3 separate regions of the Homo sapiens genome follow, and all the other regions are linked to region 2. The links come from fine-mapping of genetic effects on gene expression. A gene starts in region 2. Each other region holds a variant in brackets. All regions are shown on one strand. Distances are from middle to middle.

The links. PIP is the estimated chance that this variant, and not a neighbour inherited with it, causes the effect.
Region 1: its variant is the best candidate, but not a certain one, in a credible set for the expression of MORN2 in skeletal muscle (GTEx, PIP 0.90).
Region 3: its variant is the best candidate, but not a certain one, in a credible set for the expression of MORN2 in blood mononuclear cells (TOPMed, PIP 0.68).

What each region holds. Positions count from the first base shown.
Region 1 is chr2:38,738,759-38,741,521 of GRCh38, forward strand. No RefSeq gene overlaps it. Among named protein-coding and RNA genes, the nearest start is that of SRSF7, 11 kb to the right of the region's middle. RefSeq lists a silencer at 2,080-2,252. The variant A/G (reference allele first, on the strand shown) is at 1,497.
Region 2 is chr2:38,874,847-38,877,609 of GRCh38, forward strand. MORN2 (MORN repeat containing 2) reads left to right here and starts at 1,130. Exons shown (of 5, transcript NM_001145450.3): 1 at 1,130-1,264. The coding sequence starts at 1,207. It overlaps DHX57 (DExH-box helicase 57), which reads right to left and starts at 1,088. Exons shown (of 24, transcript NM_198963.3): 1 at 941-1,088. RefSeq lists an enhancer at 297-1,281.
Region 3 is chr2:38,840,590-38,843,352 of GRCh38, forward strand. It overlaps DHX57 (DExH-box helicase 57), which reads right to left. Exons shown (of 24, transcript NM_198963.3): 12 at 2,416-2,621. It overlaps LOC105374470 (a long non-coding RNA gene), which reads left to right. Exons shown (of 3, transcript XR_001739419.2): 2 at 2,279-2,354. Among named protein-coding and RNA genes, the nearest start is that of DHX57, 34 kb to the right of the region's middle. The variant C/T (reference allele first, on the strand shown) is at 1,562.

The DNA.
Region 1 (2,763 bases), 140 kb before region 2:
GGCAAAACCCAATCTGTACTAAAAATGCAAAAATTAGCTAGGTGTGGTGGTGCACACCTGTAATCCCAGCCACTTGGGAGGCTGAGCCAGGAGAATTGCTTGAACCTGGGAGGCGGAGGTTGCAGTAAGCTGAGATCATGCCACTGCACTCCATCCTGGGTGACAGAGTGAGACACTACCTCAAAAAAAAAAAAAAGGGAATCAAGTAGAAGTTTGTTGAAAACAGTATAATGATGCATAAGAAGTTAACTAGAGAGGCCAGGCACAATGGCTCACACCTGTAATCCCAGCACTTTGGGAGGCTGAGGTGGGCGGATCACTTGAGGACAGTAATTCAAGACCAGCCTGGTCAACCTGGTGAAACCCCATCTCTACTAATACTACAAAAATTAGCCAGGCATCACCATGTGCCTGTGCCTGTAATACTGGGAGGCTGAGGCACGAGAATCACTTGAACCCGGGAGGCAGAGGTTGCAGTGAGCCAACATCACGCCACTGCACTCCAGCCTGGGCAACACAGTGAAACTGTCTCAAAAAAAAACAAAACAAAACAAAAAAAAAGTTAACTAGAGAGAGTCAGAAGTAGATTTGAGACAGCAGAAGAAAGAGTAAGTGAACTTGAAGGTAGATTAATAGGAATTATTCAACCTGAAAAACAGAAAAGAGATTGAAGAAAACTGAACAGAACCTCAGAGACCTGTGAGAAAACAAGCACATGAGCGTATGAGTAATGGGAGTCCAAAGAGAGGGACAAAAAAAAATAATGGCAAAAAACTTCCAAATTTGATGAAAACCAATTATCTATAAATCTAAGAAGCTCAACAAACTTCAAGAATAGAGATTCCCATCTAGATACACCAAACTGTTGATACATTTAAACTGCTGAATGTCAAAAGCAAACAAAATTTGAAAGCAGCAGGAGAAAAATGACTCCTCGCTACAGGGGACCACCAGCACCAGTACAATTAACAGCTGACTTCTCATCTGGAACAATGGAGCCCAGAATGCCGTGGAATGACATGGTCAAAGTGCTTCAAAACCAGAGATTCAATTATCACCCAGAACTATCCTTCAAAAGCAAAGGTGAAATAAAGACTAGGGAATTCATTGCTAGCAAGCCTGCCTTATGAGAAATACTAGAGGAAGTCCTCCATACTGAAATTACACCAGAATCCATGGAAAGAAATAAAGAAGATCAGAAATAGTAAATATATGGATTAATAAGACATTGTATTTTTTCATTTATTCTCTTAAAAGACATAAGATTAGCCGGGCATGGTGGCTCACGCCTGTAATCCCAGCACTTTGGGAGGCTGAGGCAGGTGGATCACAAGGTCAAAAGATCAAGACCATCCTGGCCAACATGGTGAAACCCTGTCTCTACTAAAATTACAAAAATTAGCTGGGCATGGTGGCACGTGCCTGTAGTCCCAGCTACTCAGGAGGCTGAGGCAGGAGGACTGCTTGAACCCAGGAGGCAGAGGTTGCAGTGAACC[A/G]ATATCATGCCACTGCACTCCAGCCTGGCAACAGAGTGAGACTCCGTCTCAAAAAAAAAAAAAAAAAAAAGACGTTAAGATTACACAAAGCAATACTTGTAACACAGTAGTATCAAGTTTAGAATACATAAATATAGCATAAAAGAGGGAAGAGTAAAAGGAAACAGCATTGGAGTGTAATTTCTATATTTTACCAGAGTATTAATCAGAACTAGATTGTGGTAAGATTCAACCACTAACTAAAAAATAGTTTTAAAAAATCAAGAGGAATTAAGTAACACACTTAATTTTTTATACTAAAAAAAATATTTAGGCCAGACATGGTGGCTCATGCCTATAATCCCACCACTTTGGGAGGTCGAGGCGGGTGGATCACCTGAGCTCAGGGGTTTGAAACCAGCCTGGCCAACGTGGTGAAACCCCATCTCTACTAAAAATACAAAATTAGCCGGGCGTGGTGGCTCACACCTGTAATCCCAGCACTTTGGGAGGCTGAGGTGGGTGGATCACCTGAGGTCGGGAATTTGAGACCAGCCTGATCAACATGGAGAAACCCCGTCTCTACTAAAAATACAAAATTAGCCAGGGGTGGTGACACATGCCTATAATCCTAACTACTCAAGAGGCTGAGGCAGGAAAATAGCTTGAACCCGGGAGGTGGAAGTTGCGGTGAGCGAAATCGCGCCACTGCACTCCAGGCTGAGCAACAAGAGCAAAACTCTGTCTCAAAAAAAAAAAAAAAAAATTCTGAATAGAATGTTAACTTTTTTTTAAAGATGATTATTTCTTTGAGCACAGCGACCTCTACTGGTACTAATATAAATTAAAATGCAGTTTCTGTTTTTTTCAGTTTCCTTTCCAGCATGGGATCATTTGGAGACAGAGAAACCTAGAGGACAATAGCAGAATCCTTTGATTCACATGTGAGTGCTGCTACTTCCTTATTATAGTAGAATAAACCAGGCCAATCTTCCAATAACTAACACCACTTCCAGAGCAGTGGTTTTCAATTCTGGTTGCGTATTAGAAGAACCAGGGGAGAAGCGAGGCACTGTGGCTCACACCTGTAATCCTAGCACTTACGGAGGCCAAGGCCGGTGGAATGCTTAAGCCCAGGAGTTTGAGACCCACCTAAGCAACATGGTGAAACCCCATCTTTAAGAAAAAAATACAAAAATTAGCTGGGTGTGGTGACATGTGCCTGTAGTCCCAGCTACTCAGGAGGCAGAGGCAGGAGGATCACCTGAGCCCAGGAAGTCAAGGCAGC
Region 2 (2,763 bases):
AAAATAACAGGTCAAACTGAATTCTGTAAGGTTGTGCACCAATAATTACCTATTATTTCTAAAATTTAGGGAAATGAAATAACAAATCAGTTAGATTAGAACTTCATCTCAAAAACCATGCAGCCCAGGTAAATTTGTGTACTGAGAAACATTAGGAAAAAGCAAGAGGATACTTACGCTGAATCAAAACAAGTTGTCTCACACCAACCCAGAAAATGTTACTTTTACAACTAGATCTGAGATATGCGCTTAACATTTTAAACGAAGATTTACTGACTGTAATGGTGTCCAATACCACTCTCCCAGAGTTTTCAAGGGAATAGGAATTAGGTTGTATAATCCACGTGGTTAGATTCCACTATCTATTCCATCTAGCCCGGGAAGACTCCAACTATCTTTCTTCACCATGGATACAGGGACCTAAGTTTGGCTGTAAGAGTATTCTTTGTTTGATAGCCAAGGCACTGAAAAGTGACTACACACTACTCTCCTCCCAGGCAGATCTCTGACTGATCACAATATATCCAGCTCCATCCAGATATCCAGATCTCGTATCCTTTTTCGAACTCACATCGTCCCCACCCTTCTCCCCAAAAAAGCCACACAGACGGAGTCAGAGAACGGAGCCTGATCCCTTCAATCAACCCCTTAGCCTGCTCCAAGACTGAATTTCACGCCCCGCCCCCCCCGGCCCCAACCTGCAGTTTGAGCGTGGACAACCTCAGCGGCAGAGCCCGCCTTGGTTCGGTATCAGGGCCTGGGATCCTGCTGGTCCAGATTCACCGGCCCCAGGCAGACTGGATGAAACACACTGGGCCGCGATGCTCGTCAGATCCCGACCACTCCTGGAGCAGGAGGCGGCAGACACACTGACAAACAGGGTGACGCGCACACCGTGCGCACAACGCGCATCACTTGTCCGCAGAAGTGGAAGACGTACCTGGCTCGCAGAGTTGGGTCCCGAGCCGGCTGTCGGGAGGTGCTGCCCAAGGGTCAGAGGTCCAAACTGGACTTGGCCACCCTCACGATTCTCACTTGGAGCAGCCCTGCGGTGGCCCAGCTGCAGCGGCACAGTCCCGGCGCCTTCTGATTGGCTCAGCTACAGCCCCTCGCGTATTCGCTTCCGGGTGAGAGGTGCCCGGTCGCCCCAGCAACCAAGTCGCACCTGGAGCTGTCCTAGCGCCTAGTTCTCTCCCGGCCGCAGAGCTGGCCGCCCAGGGGGAGTCGCAGAGTTTGGAAGATCTCTCTAACACCTCTCGGCCAAGTGAGTGTCCCTCCTCCTAACGACCCGGGCAGAGAAGAGCTCCTTTAAGTCGAACTAGCGTGGAGTCAGAACCTGCTTGGCTCCCGGTAACTCCTGTGGGGGTGTGATATATTTCCTGACCGTCTAGCCGAGGGGCACGGGGGAACCCCTGGTCTGGGAATCTAGCTCTGATTCTGTTGTTAATTCGCTGTTGAGACACCCGAGGCGCGTGCCAACCTCCCTGGGCCTCAGTTTCCGCTATGGTGCCGGGTGGTCTCTGTGAGGTTCCCTCTAGCTCTGACGTTCCCAAGTTTCGAATGTAGAACATTTTAGCGGCAATTGAAAACAGTCCAGTTTCTGATATGATTACGTTTAATGCTCTGCTTCATAGGCACTTAACGATTCCTTCCGAAGTGCCCTTCATTCACTAGACGTTCTGTTACTATTAGTACTAAACACGGAGTCGGACAGTGGGGTGAGAAGAGATTTGACTAATCTGCCATCCGTGTCCTGGAGGAACTGGGTGGGATAGGGGATCCCGATACAAAAGCATGGTTTTAATAGAACCTTAAGTACTACAGTAGGAATAGGCCCAGAGTGCCGTGGGGGTTCCTGAAGGAGTCTGAGGTTGACAAGTAATGAGAAGAAAGGCTTTGTGGGAGAGCTCATACCTGAGCTGGGGCTACAAGAATACAATAGCTAATATTTACAGAGTTTAGACACTGGGCTAAGTGCTTTAACTAGATTAGCTCATTTACTTGATTTGCCCCATCTAAGGATGAGGAAACTGAGGCATAAGATAATTATTTGTCCAAGGTCAGAGAAAATGGTGGAGTCTGGATGCAAAGGTAGGTAGTCCGATGCCAGAGCATGAACCCCTAACTACTACACTCTATTTTGCCAACTCTTGAGGATGAATAGCAGTTAACCAGGTAAAGAAGAGAAGGGTGTTCCACCCAGAGTACGGCATGGCATCTGTGGGAAACTACAAGCAGATCTGGTAATCTAGTTAGTTATCATTAGTTAAACACTTAGAAAGTAGCTCTGACGCCTGTAGTTCCAGCTACTTGGGAGGCTGAGGCAGGAGAATGGCGTGAACCCGGGAGGCGGAGGTTGCAGTGAGACGAGATCAAGCCACTGCACTCCAGCCTGGGCGACAGAGCGAGACTCCGTCTCAAAAATAAATAAATAAATAAATAAATTAAATTAAATTAAATTAAATTAAAAAATAAAAAAGAAAGAAAGTAGCTCTGTGTCCCTGCTCTCTTGGAATTTCACATCTTGCAGACATGTAAATAACTAATTAATGAGCACACATGGCAATTTCTGTATACCACCATACTTCACCCTTTATCCACAACCAAATCTTAGAAATTATGGGGAAAAAATAAGCAAACATAACTAAATTCAGATTTTTCTAAGATTTAGTGTTAATTAGTGTCTATATTTAACCCCTAAACGAGATCAGAATTCTAGCAAGATTGCTCTCTATCCTCCACACCATTTCCATATTGATATTA
Region 3 (2,763 bases), 34 kb before region 2:
CAAAAAACAGAACCAGAAGCTCAGAAAAGCTAAGCAATCAGCCCAGTACCATACAGAAGCTGGTGGCAGAGTCATGTTTCCTGACCTCAACTCCTCCATTCTCCTTCCTTAAAAAGGGGGTCCCAAAGGTACTTTCTGAACTTTAGTAACCTTTGTGCTTAAAATTAGAAAGTCATGGATTAGATTCAGTGATAATTTTAAAAGAAAACTCCAAAATTTTGAAAGAAGCCAAAGGGATTTTCTTTTTTTTGAGACAAGGTCTTGCTCTGTTGGGGCTGGAGTGCACTAGTGCGATCATAGCTCACTGCAACCTTGAATCCCTTTGCTCAAGCAATCCTCCCGCCTCAGCCTCCTGAGTAGCTGGGACTACAGGTGCCAACTACCATGCCCGGCTAATTTTAAAAAACATTTGTAGTAGAGACAAGGTCTCAATGTATTGCCCAGGCTGGTCTTGAACTCCTGGGCTCATGTGATCCTCCTGCCTCAGCCTCCCAAAGTGTTGGGATTATAGGCGTGAGCCACCATGCCCAACCTCAAAGGAATTTTCTTGTTCCATAATTTAATGGAATAAGGGAATCTGAATTATCAGTTGGTATGACGTACAAAAAGCACACAAATTTTTTAGTTAGACATATTTTAATTAGAATCATGGATCTGCACTTACTAGCTGGGCACTATCCTTGTGGGTTTGTATTATACTCATCTAAATGATTCCACTTTATAGATAAGGAAACTGAGGCACAGAGATGATAAAGAACTTGCTCAAGATCATTAGCTGGTTTTATGAGAGCCTTGGGAGTTGAACCCAGATCTATAAAACACAAGTCCATTCTCTTAGCTTTACATCTCTCAATATTGCGAAGATGAAATAAAATGTTAGGGAGCTATGCTTATCTTCCTAAACAACAGAATAATGGCTAATATCTTAATTCCTTGGTGATTACCATTCCACATCCAGGATTGGGAACTGTCTTTGGTAGATGCAGAAAAAGGAAAATTCATTTGCCTTGTATCCTACAGAAGCAGTAACGGGTTGGAAGCTCTTACTCATGAACAATAAACACCCTTTTTTGGGAAGAACTAAGAACAGGGTGACAGTCTACGGAAAAAGGAGCAAGAAGGACAGCTGAGACCTGCTTGTAGTCTAGGCTTCAAGGAAGAAAGCAAAAGTAGTGATCCTGGGGTTTCTATGGGCTCAGTTTAGCTTATATGGATAGAAGACCACATAGGAACAAAGAGTAGCCAGCTAGAGTCTGGCATGGGAGGAGGAAGTACCTAATAACATACATAAAAAGCTCAGCACAGGGTAGGCCTCAAAAGATGTTATTTTAAAAGCCCACGAATAATGCTAAAACTATTGGGATATTAAATGGTTTTAAAATCATGTCAAATATTGCTTCACAAATGACTTATTAACTACAAAAGAAATAGCAATTACCAAGGGAGAAACCTAGCAAACATTACCTTTACCAAGTGAACAAGTTAACATTGCCAATAATGGGACAAGCCAACACCACGGGGCCCATGTGCCTTTTGATATGATGCATTGAGAAATCAAGAT[C/T]GTTTTTGTGATGCTCCAGCCAAAAATGTATAACCTAAATTTAATCATGGAGAAATACTAAACCCAAATGGATGGACATTCTACAAAATAATCTTCAAAAATGTCAAGGTCACTAAAAGACAAAGGATGAGGAGCTGTTCTAGATCAAAGGAGACTAAGAATACATGACTGAATGTAATATATGATCCATGATAGGATCCTGAATCAGGAAAATACAGCAAAAATAAACATTACTGAGATAATTGTTCAAGCCTGAGTATGGACTGTGAATTATATAATTGTATCAGTGTTAAATGTCCTCATTTTGATCACTGTACTGTGGTTACGTAAGAGAATGTCCTTGTTCTTAGGAAAGACACACTAAAGTATTAAGGGTAAAGGAGCATCATATCTGTAACTTACTCTCAGGAGATTCAGAAAAAAAAAATACATGAACCCAGAGCAAATGATAAAGCAAAAAATGAAGTAAACATTAACAACTGGTGAATTGGGGTAAAGGATATATGAGAGTTCATCGTTTAGCCTTGCGAACTTTTCCATAAATTTGAAATCACATCAAAATAAAAAGCTACAAAATGCACAAGAATATAACTTATATTTTACTACCTCACAATTTTTCTCTAATGAGCACATATTTCTTTTATAATTAGAAAAAAAACCCATTGGCAAATATAGTAACAATTGTATTCTAAATATGTATCTGAACTATTTTTCTAGGTTTAAGGTTGCTCTGATGAATTAAAGGCAATGTAACTATGAAACAAGAATCATATTTTTCTTCTTCCGAATCTTGGTAAGAAAGAATACTAGAAATCTTTGGCATAATTATAATATTCCCCCAAGAGGCATGTTACCTTTATAGCGGGCCAGGAGCTGCTTAAAATCTAACTGTTGATCTGGCACTGCATCTTTGACAGAATCCTGATCCTGGAGGTGAAGGGAGAGCCTTAGGTCTTCTTCCACTTCTTCAAATGCAGTTCTGTTCCGCCTTGCTTTAAGCTTTTCCTTTGAAATCTGTTTCATGGACCGCATATATGGGCTCCCATCCTGTAATACATACCTGAGAAAGACAAAGGAATGTGGTTGTGTGTATGTGGTCCTGTTGGTGAGGAGGGAAAGAATTCACCTGTTTCACGTGCTCGTTCAGCAAAATGTCACTGTCTGCCCAATTCACATGCCATCCTTCCACCAGTCCAGGATTC